Linked DNA regions of Homo sapiens. The protein of the gene in region 4 interacts with the protein of the main gene of each other region in a biochemical or structural test. Each region holds a gene or a part of one and is shown on either strand. Other genes may lie near its edges.

Region 1 (7,100 bases), on a different chromosome or scaffold from region 4:
CACACAGAGATCCTGTATCCTGTGATGGACCTTCAGCTCTCTTAATTTTGTTTCTGCTGGGATAATAATATATTCTGAAAGAGATGACAAATGACAGAGAAATTGAAAAAGTCCTCTGTCCAGAAACACTATCCAGTATATATTTATTTACAGTATTCTGTATATAAATAACCCTCAAGTTCACATCTATAAATCTAACCCCAACTTTTTTATAACCTAAAAAAAAAGTGAGATCTTTACCTTAACTATTCCAAACAGTCAAACTTTTCAAACTTCTTTGAGAGAGAGAAGAAACTACTAGAATAAATACAAAAGGAAAGGATTCCCCTTATAAATCAGTCACCAATCAGGGCTGATGATTTTCCCTTTCCAGTATTTCTCCCAGTCTCTCCCCCAAGTCTTGACTCATGTTCCAACTAGCTCATGACTGAACTTCGGTGCTCTTTCTGCCATAACATTTTTGGCATTCTAAAACCTCCATACAGCAAATCCATCTTTCAGATGTCCTTGGTATGATGTCGCTATGAAAAGATTACTGAGGCTTCTAGCAATTTGAGTTTAATTCAAGGCCTTTTCATAACTGTACTTCCCTTAAATACCCAGGCCACCACCTGCAGGCCTGCTGCATTCCATAGGTGCTTGCTGTCCCTCTCCCTCTGCTCTCGTCTCACTCTCTCCATGTAACACGCCCCTTGGTAGCTTCTGAGACACCTGGAATTCACCCTCCATTTAAAATCCCACTACCAAACCTCTTGAACTAGGCATCAGTCTCCCCATTCTGAACTCCAGGAGGAAGTGGGGGGCGGGGTGGAGGGAGAATTCAAGCTGGTCAAAACAAAGTCTATCAATATTACTTTGACCCAATTTGAATATTCTCTGACACTACTTCACTTGCTTTAGAATTTAGAAAAGTTAAAATTGTACAGAATTACCTTTGCTTTTTGAGAAATTTTGTTTTACATTGTATACGTGCTTATGAAGCATTGCTGTTTCATTAACTGGTCTGCATCCAAATGGAGAGGATTGTATACAAGGCTTTCACAGTGCCTAGGAGTGCTCCTGCTGACCCACAATAGACATTCCACAATACTGATGTGGAAAAGGAGCATGATATGACTTACATCAGCATTAGACAAAACGTGTCATTTTCTTGGAAGTTGCAAACAGTTGACATTACCCGTAATATAAAAGTAAATTTCCATAAATAAATTCCTGGCACTCATTGTTACCTTAGTCTAGAACTTTCACAACTTTCTAGATCAGTGATTTTTTTCCACCTGGAGCTTTTAACATTCCTGTGCTCAGTGCTGCAATTCACAACCCTTAAGATTTAGCAAACTCTGTTACAAATAATTTAAAGAAAGCAATTCATGATTATTCAAGTGATAATTAGAAAGCAAAAGGAGTGCTAGCCAGTCCTCCAGGGCTGAAAAATTCAGCACCTTTAGAGACCTCTGTCTCCACTCCTGAAACGCTGGCTGTTTACACTAAGAAGACTGGCGCCATGGCCCCCTCTGCCTCACGTCTGTATCACCCCCTTCCATGCAACATCCATCTGGATGGCTCCAGAGGCAACCTGAAAATCCAAATTGCTACTGTAAACAGTGGTGGGTGGGCTGAGTCTCCTCTGGGGGTGGCCTGGCCCCGGATAATGACCCTTCTAACCTGCCTTCAGTGGCCGCTGTCCAGAGCCCCACAGCCTCAAACTTAAGGACACAGCCAGCCTCGGGGTGTTCCTGGACATCACCCCCACCACTTCAACGTCCTACTATCAGCATCCCGGGAATGAAAAATAGGAAGGTCGCAACTTTCAGGTTTTGTCGTTGGAAAATGTGTTTCCATGCTCATACAGAAGTGGAACTAAAAGATGACAAGGCCTTGGGTACCTGCACTCCTGGTCAGTTGTTTTGACAACTGGCCGAGTCAATCACACTCTCTTAAAAGCTTATCTGACAGGTGAGAAATTCCTTGTCTCCAGGTCATTCCGGGGGCACTCTGGTGCAGGAAGGAGGATTCCTGCACCAGGAATGCGCTGGTCCAGGGTCCGTAGGGGAGAGAGGGGAAGAAAACTGGGAAGTCTCAAGGACAAGGAGGGGCGCGGCGAGGAAAGGGCAAGATACCTGGAAATGTCATGAGAAGGATGGAAATGGGTGAGGAGGCGGCGGACTGGAGAGAAATCGGTGAATAGAGGAAGATGGGGCGAGAGGAGGATGAGCAACAGCGAGCGCAGCGCCTCGGGTTGCAGGCGTCCAGCCGCGGCGGGGCCAGCCGCTTCCAGAGCGCCGGCGAGGCTGGCGGCCAGCCGAGCCCCGGGAGCCGGAAAGTTGGCGCGGAGAGGGCCAGCCGGGCAGCGCCCCCTGCGCCGCGGGGAGGCGCCGGGCTGGCAGCGGTGCGGCGACTTACCTTCTGGTCGACAATGGAGCAAGCCATCTCGCGGACGTGCGCCAGGCTGTAGTCCCCGGACGAGTCCTGCAGCAGCAGCACCGGCTCACGGCTCAGGCCGATCTGCAGATGGAACGAGATGCCCCCGACCGGGGCCGCGACAGGAGCCAAGAACGGCGCGGGCCCGGGCCCGGACCCTGGGACCAGTGCGGCGGCCGCTGCGGCAGCTGCCGCCGCCACGGGCAGCAGCGGACTGGGCGGCCGCAGGACCGGAGGGGCGCTCATCGCTCGGCGGGGCGCAGGGCCGGGCAGCGGAGGGCGGGGGCTGGCGGCGCGGCAGCAGGAAAGTTTTGCAGCCGCTGAGCCAGGAGCTTCTTTCTCCGAGAGCCCAGACGGAAAATAAAAACTTTCCGGAAAAGTCCCTGGGCTGGGGGAGGGCAAGGGGATGAGGATCGGGAGGGGAGGGGACTAAGGGGAGGAGATGGGGAGGAGGGAAAATGGCCGAGGCGGGAGGACTCTGAGGCCCGGAACGCGGCAGCCGGCTCGGGGCCGCCGGCACTGGGGAGGCGCCGCCGCCGCCAAGAATCTGCCGCCTGGCGCGCTCGGAAGGACGGGGCGACGGGTCGGCGCGGCCCGAGCGCCGGGCGGGGGCCGGGGCGGGAAGGGGGCGTGAGGGGCGGGGAAGGGGAGCTGGGGGCGGGCACTGGGGAGCCACCACCCGGCGGGCGCGGGAGTCGCAGGAGCAGCGGCCGCAGTGGCCGCAGGGTGCCCGGTCGCCGCCCCCTCCGCCCGCAGTTCCCGGGGCCTGAGCCTCCGCGAGCCGGGATAGGACCGAGTGGCGGGGCTCGGAGCCGCCTCGGCAGGCGCGGCCCTTCCCTCCCTGCAGGGATTCCCGTCCTCTCGGGTCCCGCTGCCCCGCCCCGACTGCGGACGGAGTGGATGGGGTGCACCGCCTCAGACCCGCTTCCTGGGGTCGCGAACTTCCCGGGCCCCAAGGTCCCTGCCACCTCTTCCAAATGCTGGAGGACTACGCACTTCTACAAGTGAGGTGACTTTTGAGGAATTCAAGAATGCTGATCACAGCGGTTCCCCTTGGGTCTTACCTTCGGAGGGTCAAGGGAGGATGGGTCATCTGGAACCCACTTACATCCAGGCCCCTCTGGGAGCCCTGGGGTTTGTGGCCAAAGAGGGTAGGAAGCCACTCCACAGAAAGGGGTTTAAACTTGTCTCTACCCTTTTTGTCGCTCTGACGCGCCCTTACAGCCAAACCTACGTACTCCACCCCAGCTCCTAAGGCACCGGATATACACAGTGATCTAAGGAGAGGGTCGCTTTGGAAAGAAAAGGCATTGACTGCCCAAGGGCAGGAGGGAGGTCTGATGCGGTCTCCTTTCCTTTACCTTATTCTTTGCGCCTGAAGTTTCTACTTTGGAGCTTCAGAAACTATTTTCCTTCTCCTCTATCAATCTAAAGTCTGTTATATAGGAGCAGTGCCCCCAAGTCCACCTCAGCACCGCCACCGTCATCACAAGCACAGCCATCAGGATTGGGCACAACCTGCCCTAATTTGGATCGCCGTTTATTTTTACTGTTGTTTTGGCAGGGTGGGGATTGCTTTACATTCGCTGGAGATGAATTATAATTCTCCCCTCCAACCAGGGTGGGCTTCATGGGTGTGCGACTATGCAGTTGTATAGGCCACAGCTCATAAGACCCGTGTTTGGTTTAATATTCTGGGACAATAGTCTACTGTCGCTGTTTTGTTCTTCTTCATAATTTTTAATCAAGGAGTCTCACATTTGTATTTTGCAATGGGCCACGCAGATAATGTAGTCAGCTTTGCCTCTCTCTTCGCCACTTCCCTAGACTTTCCCCTTCCTCTGCGTAAGTACACACAAACATACCTAAACAAACATTTTGTATTTTGTATAGCTTATTTTGTTCTGTTTTATTTATTTATTTATTTATTTATTTATTTATTTATTTATTGTCTTAACTTCTGGTTGTGGCCCAAGATATTGCAAGGTAGCTTCCTTTAGAACCGTGTTCCCAGGGTCAGTAATGGAGCCCCAAACACTGCAAGGCTGCACAACTGCATTGAAGAGACTTGAATTTATTCTCTGAATGTGATGGTTTGATAAGGTCTACCTGTGTTTACATTTTCCCTGCATAGTTACTTATGAGGTGGTCCTCTTCATCCCTGATACAGGTAGGTAATTTTCCTAATGTTCTAGACTCAGCTAATCTAGGAAAATGGTGGAATTTTTCTTGATGAAATGCCTTTCTGAATTCTGAAGGAGGTTTTTTTCTTTTAAATGTCCGAAACTATACTTCATTTTCTTTGAAATCAGAATAAAGTTAATATTCCACAGTTTTCTATTATCAAAAAAAAGCTTGCTGGTCAGTTTACAAGAGACTTACAAAAAGCTAGTTTCACTTGAGATTCAAGAGCGCTGAAGACATTCATGTTTTATAGATATCACAACTGCATGTTGAGGACTTCTCTGTTCCAGGCACTGTACTGGCACCAGTTGCACAGCTGTGAAGACAGGTGGTCCTTGCCCTAAAAAGATCACAGTGAAAAGGGGAGGGGGGATGGAGTAAAACCACAAATGATATTATTTCTAATATTCATAATTGCAATGAATTTTTTAAACCCAATGGCGAAGACAGTGACTTGTGGGAGGAGGGATGAAGAAATGGGCACTGCTCTGGACTGGGAATGAGAGAAGACTTCACTGAGAAGTTTACATTTGAGCCAAAATCTGGATGATAGAAAGGGTAGACTTCAGAAGAACTAGGGGAATAACATTGTAGGCATAGGTAACAGAGAGTGCAAAGACTCTAACACAGAAATATATTTAACATTTTCAAGGCATAGGAAAAGAGGGGCAAGTGCGTGAGATGAGGTCAGAGAGCTAATAGAAACCAGGTTACCAGGAGTCTTGAAAGCCATGGTAAAGTGTTTTTATTTCAATTCTCAGTGCACTACCAACCCATTGGAAGGTTTTAAAGCAGGGAATAATAAGATTAATTAGCATGTTTTAAAAGATTACTCTGGATTTTGTGTGGAATATAAGAGAAAAGAGTAAAAGTGGAGACACTGGGTAGGAGACTATTGCTGTTTTTGAGTCTAGAAACACGGGTTAGACTCCTATGGTTGTAGAAGAGATGCTAAGAAATGGGAAACTGCAGGCTCTATGTTGGCGGAAGTTCTTGCTGAATGAGTCAGAGATTTACAAGGAGTGAGAGAACAAGGGTGTCACAAAAGACTCCCAAGTTTCTGAGCAATTGGACTGATGGTGGTGCCAATAATTGACACAGAAGATAGAGAGTGAGCAAGTTCAGGGAGAAATAAGATTTCTACTTTGACCATGTTGAGTTTGATATGCTGCTAGATATTCAACTTAGAAATAGCATCTAGAGCTGGATATATGGGTCCAGCATCCAGAAAAGAGAAGAGGGTCAGAAATACATTTAGAAATCTTCTCAGTGTGCAGAAGGCATTTCAATGTGAGATTAGATGAGAGCTCTAGAGAGAAAGAGCTTAAAGTACTTATCAGTTATGAGACTTACAGGAATTTTAAAAAAAGTATGAATAACTTCTTGTTAGACTATGATTTATCAATAGTATGAAAGATTTATGTAGGGTGTTGGAAATAATTGATAAGGAAACAGGAGAAGGAATTCTAAAGATGCCCTAGAGAATTAACATTACTTTTAAGACGGTGAAATATTACTGAATGCAAAAGAGTGAATAAAGAAAAACAAGAAGAAAAAAATCGTGTATCTACTGGACCTCCCCATCGCAAACAGAAAATTCCCATGGAGTTGGTTATTGCAATTTCTATTGTAGGCACCTGAAATCTAACAGTTTTCCAACTGCTGCTCACTTTTGCTGAATGACAAGGGAATGAATAAACAGAGAATATCTATAATAAACCTGGTGTATATCTCTGGCAACTTTGAAATTGAACATAGAAAACTTGAAGGATTTGGGAAAATCTGGTTTTAATCTCTTCTGGATGTTTTAATCTTGGAAAAGAAAAGAGGATATAGAAAGTGAATAGTAGCTTATATTAATTATATTCATGAAATGGGCTTTCATTATTTTAATCCTGGCTAACAAGACAAGAATAAGGGACTTCTAGCAGTGACTGGGAGCACCACTTTGTAAAGAAAGTTTCATGCCCTAATGAAGACTCCACATAAAAGTGATGTGGACCTGCAAGGGTAAGAAAGTTTCATGCCCTAGGCCTAGGCTCACGCCTGTAATCCCAGCACTTTGGGAGGCTGAGGTGGGCGGATCACGAGGTCAGGAGTTCAAGACCAGCCTGGCCAACATAGTGAAACCCTGTCTCTACTAAAAATACAAAAAATTAGCCGGGCATGGTGGCGGGCACCTGTAATCCCAGCTACTTGGCAGGCTGAGGCAGGATAATTGCTTGAACCCAGGAGGCGGAGGTTGCAGTGAGCTGAGATCACGCCATTGCACTCCAGCCCGGGCAACAGTGTTAAGACTCCATCTCAAATTAAAAAAAAAAAAAAAGAAAGAAAGAAAAAAAAAGTTTCATGCCCACATAAAAGTGATGTGGACCTGCAAGGGTATGCAGAGTTACGTGGAGGTACTTCCAACAATTTCCAACGATGAATGTTAATCTTGTCAGGTTGTCTTCAAAAGATAGTTGTATGTTCAAGTCATTTTGGAAATATACAAT
Region 2 (7,028 bases), about 12 Mb from region 4:
TTGAGTTTAAAAAAATTGATGGTTGTTTTGCATTTCACCTAGTAGCTTATTCAATGGTTTGTTTTTCTGCTAAATGTTAACCGTCAAAACTTGAATTAATTTCTTAATTGCTATTTCTACTTCAGGAATCTTAAGAAAGATGGCTTAACCCAGTCAGAAGGGACAAGCATAATTTTCTTCCATGGCTATTTAAGTAAGTATTAGGAGAGCTTTCACGACCATGCTATAGCTTCCTAGTGACGCAGAATTGGTAAGACTTGTGTGATATATACATGTGTGACTTGTTACATATCATAGCAACTGTGTAGTGGGAAGGATGTAAACAGTTTCTCCTTGCAGTTGACCATCATTAGAAGAATCACTGCATTCCAGTGTCTGATGAGCTTCCTAGTCCTCAGGAAAATGTTAAGTTCTGGTCCCATCCAAAAAGCACACCAAGAAGAACAAAACAAAACAAAACAAAACAAGAAAAACAAAAAATGAAAAAAACCCCTCTAAATAAACTCCTTGTTAACTGTTCCCTGCCACAGCACACACAAAAGTTTATAAAAATATTGAAAGGATAGTCTCACAAAAAAAGCGAAGTCTGAGTTTACAGACTGAGTATCAAGTACATGCAAAAAAGCTTTCATTTCACCCGTATATAAATGGTCTAGAGAAAGATACATGAGAAAAAAGTACTGACTACATAACACAGTCTTTGTGGCACTTAACTAGGGGTAGGGGAGGAGGAAATAAATAGTTCATAGTTAGTTAGTTAGGGTCAATTCTCTGTCCCATAGTCCAAACATGGAGATCCCACAGTGTCCCAAGGCAGTAAACATCCAGGTATCTTTCCAGATAACTTCCTGAGAGTCAGAGCTTTCTTCAGAGTTTCTCGTCTTGCCCCTTCCAAAAGCCAACATTATTGCCTTCAGTTTCCGCAGCCTGAAGTCAGCCATCCTGAAACACAAATTGGAACCTATTGCATGGCTGGATCTCATATAACAAAATAAGAGTGTTCCTAGAAAGCAGTTTTTCAGATGACTTTGAGGGAACATCTGAAATGATCAGTACCTTGTAGTCTCAGGATTTAGTGGGAATTAGGAGATCATGTAGGTAGCTGGGTGCAGTGGCTCACACCTATAATCCCAGAGCTTTGGGAGGCTGAGGTGGGAGGATCACTTGAGGCCAGGAGTTCAAGACCAGCCTGGTAAATATAGCAAGACCCCGTCTCTACAAAAAAATAAATAAAAACCAGCTGGGTATGGTGGCATATGCCTGCAGTCCCAGCTACTTGGGAGGCTGAGATGGGAGGATCACTTGAGCCCAGGAGTTCGAGGCTGTGGTGAGCTATGACTGTACCACTGCAGTCCTGCCAGGGGGACAGTGAGATCTTGTCTCAGAAAAAAAAAAAAAAAAAAGAGAGAGAGATCATGTAGTTCACCCAGCATATGAACTCTTAAAGACTCCAATATGGAGTCCAACTAGGATGTTGACCTTAAAGGGTGTACCACAAATCATTAGTCCCTTGAAATGGTCCTTGTTAAAAGGTTTCCCTCTTAGAAATCCACAGTGTAAATTAGTGCAAGAGGGCACTGAGAAAATCTGTAAATCTACATATGTATATGTACATATGTATGACTATGTATATTACATATATTCATAAACATATTCCATTTTATTTAGTCAGCATTTCCCAACCCTTTTATGATAAGTATTTGTTGACTAAATTTAATTTAGTAGAAGATAAAGGAAAACAAAAGAAGAAGTTTAAAGGAAATACATGTATTCTTACTGCCAAGAGAGTAATCTTGAACTGTTCTGACATGTAGTGGTCATTGGGGAGATGACATACACTGCCACAGAAAATGTTCGTACCCTTATATTTTAAAATGAGCGTAAATCCTGGAACTCCGTTGGAGGAAATACACAGATTACAAACACACGTACCTTTTCTGTGTTCTAAAGTCTTTAACTACAGGACTCACAAACATCATCTGATACTAAATAATAAATGTGTAGGTCAGTGCTCCTAATGCCATTTATTGGTCTTGCCTGGCAGAAAAAAAAAAAATCTTAAATTTGCAAACTCCTTTGTCTACATATTCAACCGCTGGGTATAATTTTGTCATTTTTTTTCCCTTCTTCCTTATTCCCTAAACAGAGCAAACATCTCATTTGTTACTGATTTGAATGGTACTGGAACTGTATACCATATATATGCATTTCATATAAGAGCATACGTCCTTCATTAATTAGCACAGATGAAATTAAATACTCGTGGTCAGTGAACCATCCCTGTGCTTTAAGAGATAAAAACACAGCTGGGCGCGATGGCTTACGTCTGTAATCCTAGCACTTTGGGAGTTTGAGGCAGGTAGAATACCTGAGGTCAGGAGTTTGGGACCAGCCTGGCCAGCATGGTGAAACCCTGTCTCTATTGAAAATGCAAAAATCAGCCGGGCATGGTGGCACATGCCTGCAGTCCCAGCTACTTGGGAGGCTGAGGCAGGAGAATCGCTTGAACCTGGGAGGCAGAGGTTGCAGTGAGCTAAGATTGTGCCACTGCACTCCACCCTGGGTGACAGAGTGAGACTCCGTCTCAAAGAAAAAAAAAAAAGAAAGAAAAGAGATAAGAACACAGAAAGGATAAGAGAGCATTTGAATATAAAAGTTCAATTTCCAGGAAACAAAATTAAATTTTTTTAAAAACCCAGATACTTGTTTATATTTCCTTATAGAGATTAATGATCAGGATATCTTACCTATTTGATTGTCTTACACCCAACAGGCTGTGAATTTCTCCTAACTCAGAAGCACAGTTTTTAAGTAACTTGAACTGTGAGAGGCCAATAGTAATGAGCTCATGGCCAATTTCACTATTTGTTAAACAAAAGCAGGTTCTCCTCTGAATTCAGAGATGCCCACAAGGTGGGCGCCATCCTGAGCACTCTGGTAGGCGTCCTACCATCTACCTGGAGAAGCTCTTTTTCTGACATTCCAGGGGCAGCTACAGCACCCACGGAAACAGCCTCTGCAGGCTGAGTTAGTGTATGGGGTGACTAGACAGGGAATCCAGAAAATCTTCTTGCACAATGATTCTTTGCTTTTTTGGATCACATACCCCCCAGGAGAATCTGTTTGTTTAATGCATGGACTCCTCTTCCCAGAAGTGACCATATGTCCATGTATATTTTACACGGAGTATAAAGTACTGTCATGAACACCCTAAAGCCATTAAATAGACCTCGGGTTAAGAGCTGTTGACACCTAATCATGATCTTTCTCTTATTCTCGTTTATATTCCCAGCTTGAACTGTGCTAGGCCAGTAAAAGAAGTAGGGGGATAGGACTGATACAGTTGTCAAGATGATCAGTGGGGGAAATGTTAAAAATAAAGTGGGCATTGCAAATCTATAGAGACAGAAAATAAATTAGTTGGCTGGGGTGAGTTGGGGGAGAATGACTGCTCGTGGGTGTAGGATTTCTTTTTGGAATAATGAAAATGTTCTAAAATTAGATTGTAGTGATGGTTGCACAACTTTGTGAGTATACTAAAAGCATACTGAAAGTATACTAAATTGCATACTTTTAAATGGGTCAGTTTCATGGCATATGAATTACATCTCAAAGCTGTTTTTAAAAGTGGATGTTATAGAAACAAAAAAAGTGTTTCAGCAGAAACTTACAATAAACCTTGTATGACCAGAGATAATGGGTGGCCTCCTTATGCACTGCCTTCAGTGAGGAAGGAACTAGGGGAATTTCTGGCTAAAGGTCACTGGAGTTTTTCTCATCATGGGAAATGTATGGAGACGTGTGTTTAGGTCTCCTGAAGAGTGGAATGTGGAGGACCACCCATAAGACTAAAGAGCACTGGCTTGATCCAGTAGGATCTCTGCCTAACCCAATATTCTGTTTATGAGAACAATTCGACAGGGTGGCAATGGCTGTCCTCCATGACATTGCTTTAAATGTTAGGAATATCATGCCAATTTTCTCAAATCCTTTCTCTTAATACACTATAGACTGTTAACTAATAAATTTATCTAACTCCATCTTGAATCAATTTCTGTGTCAGCATACTCTAACAAATTCCATCTGCATCCTACTTTGCTTTGCATGATTTTGCTCATGCGGAGGCAGAGCCTGGTTTAGAGATCCTCAAGGGCCTCGTATCTCTGATTCTCACCACCCCCTTTTCCATGATGCTGTCAAAAGCTTCTTTTGAGCAGAATGAAAAGTTTCCAATTCTCCTTTATCTAAAAGTCTTTTGCTTCTACTGCCTTTCTTGAGTCTGGGCCCTGGTTCTAGCTTGGAAAACCAAGCTGATCTGTATCGTGTACTGGTATTTTGGATATATAGTCATGGGTTTCTGGGGCATCATTTCAGTACGCACACATGACAGCCTTCAATAGGTTTCAGAACTTGATCTCGTTCAATTTTTTTAAATCATGATACTGAGATCCATAAAGAAGAAACATATGTCCAGGGTCACATAGCTAGGCAGTGGCAAGACTAAAAGTGATACATGTCTTCATTCCCAACCATTCTGCTTTCAGAACTACCAGGCTGCCCCCCAGACCCTCTGTAACGCTCATCTCAGCACTTTCAGCCTCCTTCTTCTGGTTTTCTTTGTGGGTTGACCTAGCACTTACCTCACCATCCTGTCTGGTCTCTTCTCCTTCATCCTGGTCAAGTTCAAACTCCGTGCCCCGGTCTACAACATCCACACCAGCATGCACCCTGGGCTTCTCATTTTCCCATTTGGCAAAGCCTTTGTCCTTTGCTGCTTTGTCATGGAACTTGGATTTCATTTTAGGGAAGGTGTGGGACCCCGAGTCCCCCCAGCCAGCCTCTGACCAGACAGGTTCAGTCTGGGTGGCCTGGCTGGTGGTGGCCCTCTGTAGCCTCACAGAGATCTTGCGAGAAGAGCCTGTAACCAGTGTGATGGCTCTGCTGTCTAAATCCCTGTGTCCAGCAGTGACTCCAGGGAACTCAAACACCTCATCCTGCGCTGGAAGTGAAAAAGGGTGGTGATTATTTGACATCTGACTGCTTGACAGCAAAGCATCAAGGTTAGTGCAAACAGCACGAGTCTGGCATGCAACATTCTAGAGGAACCGACAAGGGACAGAACTCAATTAGCCGCAGGCAAGTTACATATTCCTGAGACTAGAAAGCAGAGAGAAGCAAGGATGATTCAAGGGTTTAGCTACTGCTGCTCACCCTAAAGAAGGCCTTAGCGTTTAGAGTGACTGACCGGGTTTAGACCCAGAACCTAAATGAGGTCCAAGTGTGAGGAGGCAAGCAGAAAGAGACCATGGCAGCAAAGAAAGCAGAGGGCATTACCTGGGGGCAGCGAGGGGCTTCCAGGCAGTGACCCATGACCACTGCTCAAGGAGGGCGCCCGGGCAAATCTCCTGCAGGCCAGAACCAGGAGGTCTTTGCACTGTTTGTGACAATTGGCTCCACAGTCTGAAAAATTCCAAGGGTGTCGCAGATGATTAGTGTGTCTGATGTTGATTCAGTTTCCAGGGTGGCACTTGATTTGTCAGCCCTCCCCTCCCCCACCCCAGTTTCTGTGTTGAATTTCAGAGTTGAGCTCAGGCCCATGGGGTGTGTCTAGGATCTGGAAAGAGGCCATTGGTCTGCACTTGCCTTCCTGAGGTTCCGAAAATTCTCTTAGATTTGCTCAGCTTGGTTCTGTATGCAATTGAGGACCTAATGAGCAATTGTGCCTAGGGAGTAAATAGAGTCCAGCCTGAGAGGTCAGTTGCCTTTGCCCAAAACTAAATGCAAATCAAATGGGGTTGAGAGTCTTTCCCAGGCTTAGACGGAATCCCCACAAAGAGAGCCTATGCCAGCATTAGGGCAAGAAGCCTCAGCTTCTAGTCTCTCCCAGGCCAACTGCCTCTGATCATTTACTGTGAGGTGTTCCTCCACTCAGCACTTGTCTGGATTTTTTTTTTTTTTTTCGAGATGGAGTCTCGCTCTATTGCCCAGGCTGGAGTGCAGTGGCGGGATCTCGGCTCACTGCAAGCTCCGCCTCCCGGGTTCACACCATTCTCCTGCCTCAGCCTCCCGAGTAGCTGGGACTACAGGTGCCCGCCACCACACCTGGCTAATTTTTTGTATTTTTTAGTAGAGACGGGGTTTCACCATGTTAGCCAGGATGGTCTCGATCTCCTGACCTCGTGATCCACCCACCTCAGCCTCCCAAAGTGCTGGGATTACAGGCGTGAGCCACCGTGCCCGGCCTTGTCTGGATTTTTTTACTCTTCTTCATTTTCCAAAACCTTTCAGGGCCAGTGATTATATCTTCTGCTTCCAACAGAACACAAGATGGGCATATGCTCAGTAAATATGTTCTATATTTGCTTATGGCTTTGAAACAGCGTGCAGCAGAGTCTGTGAATTGCCCATTAGGATGTTTTAGATAAGACAGTAGAATGTTAATTACTACTTGGGGTAGAAAAATGTGGCCACTTCAGATGGTGGTTCACAATTATTTCCTATGATGAGGGTCCTGCACTTCACTGAGAATCATTGAATAGAGATGATCATTTCTCTCCTACCATCAAGGAGGACCTTTCTAACTATTTCCAGTACCCATTTTCCCCTAAGTGACCTTGTTTCAAATAGTCTTAATGATGTATTCAATCTATTTCAATTCATTTTTTTTTTCACTTTATGTGCCATTAAGAAAATACAAGAGATAATCCAAAGGTGTAATAGATTTTCATCTTTATAAAATTGCGTGTGTGTGTGTGTGTGTGTGTGTGTGTGTGTGTGTGTATTTTAGGGTATGAGGATAGAAACCAGAATAAAACTAATGACTCACTGCTGGGCAATAAGATCTTGCAGTATCTTTGCTGCTTGAAAGTAAAAATCTAAGTTAGACCAAGGCAAGTGATAGAGAAGCACTAATGGGAAGGTCCCTCTGAGCACTAAACAGTGGCTTCCATTGAGATTTGGGAAGCTTTTTGTTCATGCAAAATGAGGACGAAATACTGGAAAACGACTGGAGAAAAAAGGCATCCCTG
Region 3 (5,859 bases), on a different chromosome or scaffold from region 4:
GAACCAGTCACAGAATAGTGGGCTAAGATTAGAGGTAAAACTCATTCTAGGCCAGTGGTTCTCAACTTTACCATATTGCGAGCTTAAAAAAAAAAAACACAACCTGGGGGGTCCCCCTGCCCCACTAAAATTTTGATTTAATTGGTCTGGAATATAGGCCAGGCGTTAGGATTTTAAAAAGATATCCTCAGGTGATTCTATTGCATAGCCCAGGTTGAGAAGCACTGCCCCACCCCGCTGAGATTCTGCATTTCTAACCAGCTCCTAGGTGAAGTCCATGCTGCTGTTACAGACCACACTTTGAGCAGCAAGAATCTGACTTTAGAGATACACTCAGGATTAAAGTATGAATGAAAATATGAATCTTAAGGGTATTTTTCTAGTCACTAAACTAGGGATTTACAGCAGCAGTAGAATGGAGAGTAAGACCAAAAGAACGAAAAATAAATTCATTTACTAATAAAGGAAAGGGGAAAGAACAGCCCTTCATGGGCAAAAGCTTCTACCATGAACATTTATTTTTGTTAAAGCAGATTATAAATTTTCATCAGTACAAATATATATAACTTACATTTGATTGTAAGGCCAACGTTCAAAAGTAAAAATGAGATGAGCTCTCTTATTGTTATCCGAGGTCAAGAGGCTGCAACTGTCAAGGGGATGTTCTCACCAAAAGGGGGTTTGGGGGAAGAGGACACACACAAAGCTAATAAAACCAGAATCCCCATCCCCACAAAACTCATGGGAACAAAATTTAAAGGATAAAACAAAACCCACCAAGACCCATATTACAAACCAATATGGTAACCTGTGTTCCCTTCTATGGTATGATTATGTCATGTTACCTTAGTGTTAAAGGATTAACATAAGGAAACTGCAGCAATATATAAAAGATATATTCTCTATAGAGCATATTTCGATTGATTCCATTAAAATAATGACATTAGAATTCCATCATAGGTTTAAAACCAGGACAATACTGCTTTTCCTTTATTTAAAAAAAACTACAACCTAGTGACTGTATTGGTCATAAGCATGATTGTTGTTGCAATGTGCTACTTACAATGAATGACTGACAGAAAACAAGCTAGGGATCCTGTCTGCAGCTTCCAGCCTTTCCTCTTTTTATTTCAGTAGGCATCAATGATAAATCAATCTTATGTACAATTTCTTACAACTAGCCCCTTTACCTTTGGCAAGATTACTTACAACTCATACAACTTCTTAATATCTGAGAACTATTTAAAATATTCTAAATGCATAAAAATAAAGATTTTGGCTTTTGATATATATAATATTTATTCTGTTACTCAAAATGGAAGCTCAACTTCTCCCCCAAAATATAGCTCTGCTGGGCAGTTGCTGATATGCCCTCCTGGGAATTCTGGCAGCATAGCGTGCCTCTCTGTTCCCCAGCCTGAGCACAAACCACTCTTCTTGATCTCTAATACAGGCCACTACTGACAGGAGGCAGGTGAATGGCCTGAAAAACAAAGGGAGATTGCTTTGCTTCCTGTTGTGTTTTACATTTCAGTAAATGTGCTTGGAATATAGATTCTTGTTCAGATACTTTGCCTCTCTGTTGCCAGAGATTTGTAAGGGGGTAAGGGAAGAGGGAGTACAGAAAGCAACATTTCCTTGACTTCTTTAGCCTAATTGCAAGGCAGCTTTTCTCTAGGAATGCTTTTTCCCATGTCTTTCAAAATCACCCCTCACAGTACTCTGGGCCTGGACTTGTTCCTTGGGACCTTTGGGATTAGTGAAAAGAGTACTAATCAGGAGACAAAGTCTGTTTTGCTCCTTTGACCGCTACCCCCTGCTCCCTGTCTGGTATGGACAAGATACATAGCCATAATGATTGCTTAAAGTTCAATTTCAAACGTCTTCTGTAAGTCACTGGAGAAAGGGTTGGTAGGGGAGGGATTAGTACGCTGCTTGGACTTATTTTCTAATGCAGCCCACTGGGCTTCAAAAGGATCCACTGGGCAGGTGCCTGTAGGAACCTCTGTATGCCTGTCTGCTGAGGCCAACCTGCCATCATCTACACCATTGAAAGCTGCAGAACCGTTGAGGTGCTGAGCAGGAGGCTTAAAGAAGGGACTGGTGGTAGCACTGCTTGCCTCGTAGTGAGGGAATGTCTGCTGCCTGACCAGGCTGGGTGACTGATGGGGATGGGCAGCCTGAGGGTGGCCTGCAGTGCCAAATACGTTGGCCACCATCTGGGAGGGAGTGATGCCCACCACAGGCACATTAGGGGCTGGATAGGGCATTCCATTGGCCACAGGATAGGACTGGGCAGGGACAAAGGCTGGTTGCAGGGCTGGGACCACACCCACTGGCACAGGCTGAGAGGTGAGGAATGCATTCCCTTGGAAAGGTGATGCTGGCTGGGAGATGGCAGTGGGTGGAGGAGGCTGGAGAACTGGCTGCAGAGGAGCAGCTGAGGCCTGGGGCTGCTGAGCCCGGACGCTCTTAGACACCTCTTCTAACCATCGGTCGGCCTCAGAGGGAGTACGTCTATGACCGGCCTGGAAGAGACCTGGAGAGGCAGCACCAGAAGATTGACCCCACTCGGTCCCTGGAACCAACAAGATGAGAGACAAAAGAATCAGTTAGGGGCATCTTTCCTCACCTTATAATCTTGGTTATTTGAATGATCCTAACATGTACAACATGTCCCCCCCTAATGGGACATTTTGTGGTTTTGATAGGTAGGAGTAAAGTCTCTATTACCAACTGGGATTTTGTGGTAGGATGAAGAAAACTTGTCAAGACCATGCTGCTGTGTCAGCCACACTGAAGCACTGTCTAGATATGGCTCAAATGCATTAAACCACGGCAGCTGACTGATGTCAGAAACCCCTCGCTGTTGCTATGGCTCATCCACAATACAGAAACTAGCTGGTTGTGGTAGCTCACACCTGTAATCCCAGCTACTTGTGAGGCTGAGGCAGGAGGACTACTTGAGCCCAAGAGCTGGAGGCTGCAGTGAGCTATGACTGTGCCACTGCACTCTGGCCTGGGCAACACAGTGAGAATTCTGTCTTAAAAAAAAAAAAAGGCCACGTGCAGTGGCTTATGCCTGTAATCCCAGCACTTTGGGAGGCCGAGGTGGGCAGATCACCTGAGGTCAAGAGATCGAGACTATCCTGGCCAACATGGTGAAACCCCGTCTCTACTAAAAATACAAAAATTAGCTGGGCGTGGTGGTATGCATCTGTAGTCCCAGCTACTCGGGAGGCTGAGGCAAGAGAGTTGCTTGAACCTGAGAGGCAGAGGGTGCAGTGAACCAAGATACTCCAGCCTAGTGACACAGCGAGACTCCGTCTCAAAAAAAAAAAAAAAAAAAAAAACACCTAGCTTGCACATCCTCTAAAGGGCCCAAGGCAATTCATCTTCTGCTCTAACAGAGCAAAAAGAAAATAACCAGTGACCTGGCCATATCTTGCTGGCCTCTGCCTGGCTTCCAGAAATATGTTGTCTTTTTGGTGAACTGCCTTTATTACTATGTTAAAACCTTTTGAGGCCGGGTGTGGTGGCTCACACCTGTAATCCCGGCACTTTTGGAGGCCAAGGCGGGTGGATCACGAGGTCAGGAGTTCGAAAACAGCCTGGCCAACATGGTGACACCCCATTTCTACTAAAAATACAAAAATTGGTTGGGCATGGTGGCATGCACCTGTAGTCCCAGCTACTCGGGAGGCTGAGGCAGGAGAGTTGCTTGAACCTGAGAGATGGAGGTTGCAGTGAGCCAAGATCATGCCACTGCATTCCAGCCTGGGTGACAGAACAATACTCCACCTCCAAAAAAAAAAAACTTTTTGGTTTTATAATTAATAGATGTTTTTTATACAAAACTAGAAAGTACAAAAAAGCAAAAATGAAGTGCTTTTTCTAGCACTTTTTGTAGGCCTCCTATTGTAGGAGCAGGGCCCCCTCTTTCTACAGGAATGTCTGCACATCACCAAATCCGGTGATGGATTCTCTGAGGTGGGGCCCTGGAATCTTTTTTTTTTTTTTTTTTTTTTTTGAGACAGAGTATTGCTCTGTTGCCCAGGCTGGAGTGCAGTGGCGCAATCTTGGCTCACGGCAAACTCTGTCTCCCAGGTTCAAGCGATTCTCCTGCCTCGGCCTCCTGAGTAGCTGGGACTATATGCGCATGCCACCGCGCCTGGCTAATTTTTGTATTTTTAGTAGAGATGGTTTCACCATGTTGGCCAGGATGGTCTCCATCTCCTGACCTCGTGATCCACCCACCTCAGCCTCCCAAAGTGCTGGGATTACAGGCATGTGCCAACACACCCAGCCGGAATCTGTATTTTATAAAAGCTCTATGGGTGGGGCTCTGTTCCACAGTCCTGTTCCACAGTCCTAATGACTATCAGTCTGATCTCTTTTGTTCTCCTTCACCATCCTTTCTTATGTAAGCAACTTATTTCTAGGAGGGAACATAGTTTTCCTGAAAGGATTCCTCCCTAGTTCCCACTCAGCTAACTGGCTGAGTTTTAGAACCAGGGTCACTTATCTGATCCCAGAATCCTCAACACCATCTGTGGCCACCTTACCCGAACATGTGGCTGCAATTTCCTTGTTAGCAGCATCAGGGGCATGGGCCCAAGGGTTGGTTTCACGCACAGGCATTGCTACGGGTGCTAGAGCAGTATGGGCTGGCTTAGCAAGCACATGGAAGGCTGAGTCAGTGCCATTAGCTACAACGGGAGCAGACAACATCAATGGAGTTAATTCATGCAGGGTGTACAAGTGACCCCTTGGAGCTGTGTCAGTCAGGTGAATGTACAATACTGGTGGAATGGATAAGAGAGAAGAGTTGATGTTTGGGAAAACCATGATATCTTGCATTGGATGTACATACCATTAGGCAAAGAAGCAATCAGAGATTGTAATTTTTAAATGGTTGTATAGATAAAGTCAAATAACTGTTCTAGGAAAATATGTGCATGGGGAGTGGGGAAATGAAACCTACGAAAACAATTTCAAATTAAGGTGAACAGAGCTGCTGCGTCTTAGGAGCAGCAAAAAATATCTAACTATTCTAGATATAGCTTAGCCTTCGGCATAATGAAGTAGGTATAGCATTTCCCTCTTCTTCACTTTTCCAAAAGGTCAGATTATGTTAACAATAATACTGGTTAAAAATAGGCCAGGTGTGGTGGCTCACGCCTGTAATCCCAGCACTTTGGGAGGCCGAGGTGGGTGGATCACCTGAGGTCAGGAGTTCGAGACCAGCCTGGCCAACGTGGCGAAACCCCGTCTCTACTAAAAATACAAAAATTAGCTGGGTGTGGCAGTGTGCACTTGTAAACCTAGCTACTAGGGAGGCTGAGGCAGGAGAATCACTTGAACCCGGGAGGCGGAGGTTGCAATGAGCCTAGATCACACCACTGCACTCCAGCCTGGGCAACAGAGTAAGACTCCATCTCAAACAAAAAAAAATTACTCTTTGTTTCCTCCTCAAAAGTTAAAATGTATATATGATTCGTTATTATGTGCTAGTCATTAAGCTAATATTTTACATGCATCATTTCATTTAATTATCTCAAAAACCCTACGAGTCTGGTATTATCCCCCTATTACAGATGAGAAATCGAAGTTGGTATGTTTTCATTTGCTTGATAGATTTCTAATTTGCTACACAATTAATTTCAACTTTTTTTGAAGGTTTTTTTTTTTTAACTCTCCTGGTAACTCACAGAACATTTTTTAACAAAGATTTTTTTCCCCCTCTATGATGTTTACAATATCACAACATACCTACTATTCTTTCCTCATCTCCCCTTGTTAAAATCTGCTAACCCTTGTTCCTTTTACTCCAGATACCTATATTAGTTTCTTCTCCTT
Region 4 (7,580 bases):
AGTTTTTTAGTTTGTCCAATACCTGCCATACCTAATTCACAGTTGCTATAAGGCAAAAGAGATGAAGTTATCAAGTACAATAAAAATGTCAGGGACACAGCACATGGATCTGCAGGGAGAATAGGCTGGGAGGCCAGATGGGCAGGCTCGGCTCCCCATCAGACAAGCCATGGGCAACAGGCGGTGAGGGCCCTACTTCCAACCCACCTTTGCTTGTCATGTGACCCTCGGTCCCCAACTAGCTTCTCTGGAACTCAATGTCCTCATCTGTAAAACTTGCCTGTGCACTAGATGATCTGGCCTAGGGCCAAATCCAACATGAATTTGAGAACCTTAGAGGATGATAACCAAACAAGTTCCCACTGCATGCTTCACTAGGAGGGATGAAGGTGGGGACAGTGTCCTGAAGCTCCCAGAGTTTGGGGTGTGCCCCAGTGAAGCATCACCAGAGATACAAAGACACTCTCCCTCCAACCAACATCTGTTCTATGGATAAATGCAGACCTGCTGCTCCTCATCCCTGCTCTCTGCCCCACTGTCCAAGCCCCTCATCTGCATACACTGCAAAAGGCTCCCATCTCCTAGCTACCAGCGTCAAGTTTTTTCCACCCCCTTCCTGTCCAAAAACAACAACTCCAAAATCACAGGTTTTCAGAGTCAAGGTCTACCTCTGAAATTAGTTATCCCTTCCACTCCCCCTCTCATATGCACTGCATTCATGAGGAAAGGGCCCAAAGGCCATGCATGGAAAAGAAATGGGGAATGAGTGGGAGCTCTGTTGTGGGGGCTGAAGGAAGCAGAGATGAGGGACATCTGTGAAGTAGAATAGAATGGCATGGAGTTCTCTGGGATTCCATAAAGGTTTGCCTGCTTTCCAAAGTGCAAACCACAAATCTAGAGTTCTACGCATGTGGCTTGTTGGAGCTTCCCTGTGAAACCGTAACCATGGTTTCAGGCAGACTACATCACAGCCATGAGCACAAAAACAACAGGCTCTCTCTTATTTTTCCCTAAAACTCCGTGTCCTTGAAAAAAATATGTAAGGTGATATGCCAAAGTGATCCATGTGCAACCTCTGACCTCTAGGACATTCATGAAGTTAGCTGGTTTTCAATAGAAAGCAATTGCTCTACACCACTTTTGAGGCTTAGATAGCTCTCTCACTTTTTGTGTAGACCAAAGAACCCTGAAAACATATACCTCCAGAGGAACGCTTGTACTTGCTGGAAACATGTAACAAACCTGAAAACACAAAAATCCACATCCTAAATTAATACCTTCCTTCCAAGAAGAGAGAAAAAAAAAAAAAAAAAAAAAAAAACAACCCAAAAACAAACACAAAAAGCAAAATGAAGGTTTGCTTCTCTCTGCTTGTCCAAGTGCCAAGACTGGATGCATTTGGTTTATAGTAGATTGAGACAAGACCTCTTTCCAAATCCTTAATAGTTTAATAATGGAATCAATTAACAACTCAATCTCATACTTAGAAATCGTCTTTTATTGCACAGTATCTTGACAATCAAAACAGAGAAACAATATAACTTTAAATAAGATTCAAAGCACTGACTTCCAATTACCCACAAGCAGAACCCTTCTTAAAATGCAACATTCATTCTGCATGGATGGGCAATGAATTGGACAAAACAAGCTCGACTGATGTTTCTGGGACCATAGAGGAGACATCCTGGAGGAGAACACATTTTTTCTACTTGTATGTCAGAAGATGAGCTAACCACCATGCAAGAGAATAGAAACAAGCCAGCTTCCTCTCGGAGGGAAAAATAAAGCAACTCCTCGCTCGGCTAAGCAGGACAAAGCCAGGACGTGCAAGAAGCCTTCAGTCAAAGGCTCCACGTGCCTTTCCAAGGACGGAGGGACCCACCCACACACAATCACACACAGCCAGCCCACCACGCGCCTGCGGAAGAAAGCCGGGTCCTCGGCCAACCTTCAGCACCAGTGGCCCAGGCTCTCCCAGTTTGCAAACCTCCCGCAGCACCCACCAACTGGAGGGCACAGAGGGAGCAGAGGGCCACATCCTCTTTCCAAGTCTCATCTTCCTCGCCAATGCCTGTTTCTCCCCAACTATGAAGTGAAGTGTACCTCCCCAAGGAAACTGAGACTTACAGGCACACACACCCCAGTCGTCAATAAGTCCCGGAGCCCTACGATCAAGACCAGCGAGTCTTTCCCCGGGACCCCACAACCGGGTTCCCGGAATGACGGGGAGGCGCCGCACTCACCCAGTCCTCGAAGTGGCGGCTCCCGTTCTGCAGCAGCTCCTCAAACTGGATGGTGCAGTTGGCCACGAAGTCGTCGTAGCCTATGGGGGCATCGTGAAAGACAGCCAGCTCGATCTTGCGTCCGTTGCACACATCGGTGACGAACTCGTCGTGCCAGGCCGGGCTGTTGGTCTTCTGCTTGGTGGCCGTTTGGCCGATGCGCGAGTCGTCCACATTGAGGGCAATGTAGGGGTCGAGAAGGAAAGTCTGCGGCCGGGGTCCCACCGCATGGCGCAGCGACCAGGCTGTGGGCTTCAAGCTCACGGCCTCGCAGATTTTGATCTTAAGAAGGCCATTGAACACTACCATGGTCGGGGCGGGGAGTGGGGGCCGGGGTCACTCCGTCTGCCCCGAGGGCAGGAATGAAGAACCGACGGCCCGGCACTCCGAGCCACAGGGACTCTTGGGTCCCCTTTCGCCCCACCCCGCACACTCCCTACACCTTGTGGCGTTGCGCCCTGGCGCGGGCGATTCTCAGCCAGTGCATGTATTTCCTCGCCGGGTTCCTAACGGAAAACAGGGAGGGGGGAGAGCTGGGGGATGTCCGTGTTTGGAGCAAGTCTCTCCCCCCGACCACCAGCTGCACCTCCAGAAGAGAAGACGAGCTGTCGGCTCCGCTGCAAGCCGCGGGGGCTGCCTCGCCGCCTCGCTGGCTCTCCGGCTCCGGACTGCGGGAAAGCGGGCGCCGCGCCCGGCGCTTACCTACCTTTCCGAAACATAATCCCGGGAAATTTCGACTCCGGGAGGGGGATGGGGCGGTGGGACGGGGCGGGGACGAGAACCGGGGGCGCAGATTTCAACCCGGATCCTCTTCGCACACTCAGCGCCTGCCTCTGACCGCGCGGGGCGGGGGGGTGAACGGAGGGATGTTCAGTCTATCCGGAGGGATGCATGTCGAGAGGAAATGGTCCTCCTCGGAGCCAAATTTTTAAAAATCCACAAGCCCCACGGCCAGCCGGGGCCGCCGCCTCCTGGGCGAAGCAGCGCCGCGCCGGAGCCGGCGATCGGGAGGCGCCAGGAGCCCGGAATCTCACATCCGCGCGGGCTCGGAGTCCGGGCGGCCGCCGATCCGGCTCGGGGGCGCAGGCCAGCACCGGGCGGTGCGCAGCGCGGCGGCGGGGCAGGGACTGCGACTCAGCGCGGCCCCACCTCCTGGGCGCCGGCGCCCGCCCTCCGCGCTCCCCGCGTCCCCGCTCTCGGCTGCCGCTCGCTCGCCGCCCGCCAGCCCGCGCTCCCCCGCGGTCTCCTCTCCCTCTGTCGGTGTGCGAGCGAGTCTCCCTCCCTCTAATGCAGGAAATGCGCAAAAGACGTCAGTGTGTGTGAGTGTGTGTGTGTGAGTGTGTGTGTGTGCACGCGCGCGCGCGCACGGCAGTGTTTGGGGAAATAGAAAGTTTTGCCGGTTGGGGGAGCAATACGGAAAAAGTGAGCCGAGGAGACAACGGTGGAGAGCTGGCGAGGCTGCCCGGGGTCGCAGCGGCGGGCGGGTCAGCCGGGGGGCGGGGACCCCGCGCGGGACCCCGGGGTGCGGCGGCGCTGGGCTGGATGCGCGTGCCGGGGGCCGTGGATGGCCATGGATGGGCCCCGCCGGGCCGCGTATCTCTCGGGGACCCTGCGGCCAACACTGTCTTTTAGAGCCGGGGATGGGGGAGTGGAGGGGGCCCTGTTGCCCTAGAGGCCTCGGGACCCTTCCCTTGCCCACCCCCACTCGGGCCGCGGCGGGCAGGAGCAGTCTGCGGAGTTCTGGCCCATCTGTCACTCTGTCCCGGGACGCTGTGATCCACGGCGGTGGGGGAGGGGGAAGGGGGAGGGACAAGCATGGCTCGGGTGAAGTTTTAAACTCTGTTCTTCTCTCTTGCCTTTCTTTGGGGACATTCTCCCCTTTGGGATCTGTCCTGGACTTCGCAGGCTGCGAGAACTTGTTGACAAGTGAAAGCTCGGTAGAGCCCCGGCTTGGTTTGTGGTCTGCTTATTTTTTGCAAAGTGACTGTTCCTGTTTGCGCTGGTCCTTATCGGTGCCCCTTTGGGGGACTTCGGCACTGATCAGCGCGCTGACAGCCGCCGTCCGGGCTGCGGGAAAATGGGGCGCGCCCTCCGGGGGGCGAGTGGCTGTGTCCTTGCTAATTTCCTCCGTAACCTTTAAACTCTCGCTGGAAGCTACCGCCGCGGCTGGTCACGTGAGGAGAGCCCTGGGCTGCTGGGGAAAAATTTCCTCGGCTGGGAGCCGGGACCGGGCCGGCGGCCGGCGAGGGACTGCCCCGCGCCCGAGACTGGGAACCTGGGAGGGCAGGGCCGGAGCGCTGGGCCCCGGGGCGCGGCCCAGCTGGGACACCCGCGAAGACGGCGGCGGTGAAGAGGTCGGCTCCGCTGCCGGGGAGCTGGGGATTATGCAAATGGGGAAAGAAAACCTCCGCCCTCGCCCTTCTGCCAAGTCAAGTCTGGGAATTTGTAGGTATTGTGGTAAGCTGAGTGTTCATCTGGCGGGTCTGGTTAGTGTAAACCAAAATTTAAAACGCGCCTCCCGATCACTTTTTCCTCAGTGGGTAAAGGTTATCATTGCCTGCGGCTTAAAAGCCTAAAAAGGCTTAAAGGCGAGGAAGGAGGCAGTCCCCTGGAAAAACAGGATATCAAGTGCAGCAAACACGTCCCAAAAATGATCCGAAAAGTTCTAGGGCCATCTCCTAAGAACAGGCAAAGCCTTTGCCTGCAACCGCTCTGGAGCTTCCTAATACAGTAATTTCTCGCAGCCTGCCCTGTTGAACAGGGCAGCTGGGTAGAGATGGTGCTAAGATTCAGTCTTCCGTATGATCTAGGTAGCTCCGATGTAAAAAGCCAGGATTTCAATGGTTGTCTTACCCTGTCACTCCCCCAGCTGGAGATACGATATCTTAAAATATGTCCGTTTGACAAAGCACAAGCAGGGGTATCTCATTGCTGTTTAATTTTTATTTCTTTGATTATTACTTTTTTCCCTTTTGCTTCTTCCTTCCACTCTGCTATTCTCATGAAGCCTCTTTCCCCCTTTCCAGGGCATGTGATGGAAGGCAGTGGCAAATATGGCTTGATCTTCTGAAAATGCATTTGGGAAGCAGAGCCAGCACCAAAGTGAGATGAGTGAGATACTTTTCAGAGGCAAAATGTAAAGGGTACCAATAAACGTAATCAAGATAAAGATTTAATACAATTTTTTAAAAATAAAAATGTGAGAATCCAGAATGGACACAATATCCACATTTTAAATAATTTTAAATATTGCACTAAAATATTTATACTACTGAGTTTATTGGCACCTGTTAAATTTTGTACCTGAGCCGAGTGCGTCACTCATCTCACCCTAGTCCTGATCCTGTTGGGAAGTCTGGAAAGTCAAGGATTTCATGGAGTTAGGGATCCTTGACTAATTGGTGCTTCATATGTTCTCATTACTTGCTTTGGGTAAGTCTTGTACAGGCAGGAGCCACCATGCCCAGCCCCCAAATATATTAAATAGGGTCTGTTACCATCTCAGTGACTGTCTTAAAACAACCTACAAACTTCCAGCACCATTTCCTAGCATGCTGGCTCAGCAGACTGTTACTCCGTGTAAATCACCAGACTGCAATTCTCAAGGGCGACCAATGCTTGTCTCCTTTCCATTACAGCAACTCTTTTGGAGCAAGGGTAATAAAAGACTTTGTCAAACAAAATACATGTTTTGTATTGGATTAATGTTTACATAAAAAGGGAGAATGCTGGTAGTCTGCATGCAAACACTGCTAGTTTCCTGCCCTTATTACCTCCTTATTTCTAAATAAATCTCTCGCCTTCCTACTCTCAAACTTGGCCAAATGAAAAGTTGAATTCCCCAGGGACATCATGGAGATGCCAGGTCCAAAATAACCCCCTGCTCCAGGTTTCATGTGAAAAGAAAATCCCAAGGAGGGGGCTTAGACGGTAAAATTCCAATAGGAAATTATTGCCAGCTTCATCCTTCCCTCAGCCCCTGTCTCCAATCCCAAAGGATAAGACAGTGGTTAGCATATACATTGAGTAAAATGACCTTTGGATTCCAACTATGGCCTAGTTATTTCATAATCTTTGTGAGAAGGAAGAAAATGATACAATAATTTAACAAAGATGACCAAAATGGAGCCTTTCTCCTTTCAAAATTAAGGCTTATGAGAAAAGAATAGAACAACAGATGTGGCCAGGACAGGGCGATCAGTGTTGCAATAGGTCTATGGATGGGAGTGGCACAGAAGAAGGATCACCCCTTTGCCTGGGGAGCCTGGGAAGGCATCAACCAGCAGAATCCTTTGAGCTGAGTCTAGGCTTTCCAACAGGAGTTCTTCCAGCAGCAAAGAGGGAAGGGAAGGGTACTGGCTGCAAAAAGTATAATGTGTACAGGTAGGAAAGCCATGACTCTTCAGGTAAGCGGCCAGGTGTGCCCCACTTGTGGCAGGTAGTAACAGGAGATGAAGTAAGTAGGAACCTGATAGTTAAGACCTCAGAGGGCCTGCAGATGGGTCTCAACTTTTTCCTGGAGAGACACCAAACATTCCAGCGGGCAAGCAGCATAACTAGAGTTAATACTTTACAAAGGCGATTTTGTGATGGATAAATATTTTTCTCTTCTGTAATTTTCCTCCAGAAGGCTCACCTCAAAACAGGGTATTAGACAAAGAGAAGATCCAAGTCTGAAGATGATTTACACTCTGTATAATCAAAATTGAAACTGTCTGTGGATACTGTTTAGATCAGCTGGAGGAAGCGGGGAAGGGGGAGCCAGAACCGTAGACTAGCGCGTTAATATTCATGTCCCTGTTGCTGTGCTGGTTGTTGCCATTTATAGAATGTTAATGGGCTTCTGCAAAGGTCTGCCTGGTCAGGGTCTATCATACATTCCACACATGCTCCGCTGAACAGAATCCAACCACCTGGGCCATGGGATGGAACGCGCAGCAGTATAATGACACAGAAACCTTCTAGAGCTCCGCTGGTCCTGCCCCAGCCTAGCCCCCACCCGACCCTGAGCCCCACTTCAAACTTTGCCCCACACCTATACTCCTGTGGTGGGCTTTTGTCTGCCCTGCCATGTCTTCTTATTTTGGCCCCATCTCAGCTCCGAATTCTGGCCCCATCTCTGCTCTATATTCTGTTGCAGTGACTCAGGCCAAGCTTCACTTAATACCTGCAAAGAGGTGGAGGGATCAGAGGCAGCCCTATCGAGCTTGCTGATGGATGCAGAAGGAGATGGCCTGGTGCCCCTATTCCTCAGGGCCTGTGACTGTGAGCCCTACTCACTAGGATGCCATTTGGAGA

What was found.
Region 1: of the proteins of PRKCE (region 4) and PRKD1, one has a biochemical effect on the other in vitro, tested with the Homo sapiens proteins (one study listed by IntAct).
Region 2: of the proteins of PRKCE (region 4) and RASGRP3, one has a biochemical effect on the other in vitro, tested with the Homo sapiens proteins (one study listed by BioGRID).
Region 3: of the proteins of PRKCE (region 4) and NUMB, one has a biochemical effect on the other in vitro, tested with the Homo sapiens proteins (one study listed by BioGRID).

The regions. Positions count from the first base shown.
Region 1 is NC_000014.9:29,924,846-29,931,945, forward strand, and holds the start of PRKD1 (serine/threonine-protein kinase D1), read right to left. Parts: upstream 3,003-7,100; 5' UTR 2,668-3,002; coding exon 2,404-2,667; intron 2,252-2,403; exon of another isoform or gene 2,121-2,251; intron 1-2,120.
Region 2 is NC_000002.12:33,556,643-33,563,670, reverse strand, and holds part of RASGRP3 (ras guanyl-releasing protein 3), read right to left. Parts: intron 5,461-7,028; coding exon 5,335-5,460; intron 5,000-5,334; coding exon 4,641-4,999; intron 943-4,640; coding exon 934-942; 3' UTR 1-933. UniProt on the Homo sapiens protein: Guanine nucleotide exchange factor (GEF) for Ras and Rap1.
Region 3 is NC_000014.9:73,274,716-73,280,574, forward strand, and holds the end of NUMB (protein numb homolog), read right to left. Parts: intron 4,710-5,859; coding exon 4,566-4,709; intron 2,579-4,565; coding exon 1,863-2,578; 3' UTR 501-1,862; downstream 1-500. UniProt on the Homo sapiens protein: Regulates clathrin-mediated receptor endocytosis. Plays a role in the process of neurogenesis.
Region 4 is NC_000002.12:45,647,112-45,654,691, reverse strand, and holds the start of PRKCE (protein kinase C epsilon type), read right to left. Parts: upstream 3,018-7,580; 5' UTR 2,592-3,017; coding exon 2,244-2,591; intron 1-2,243.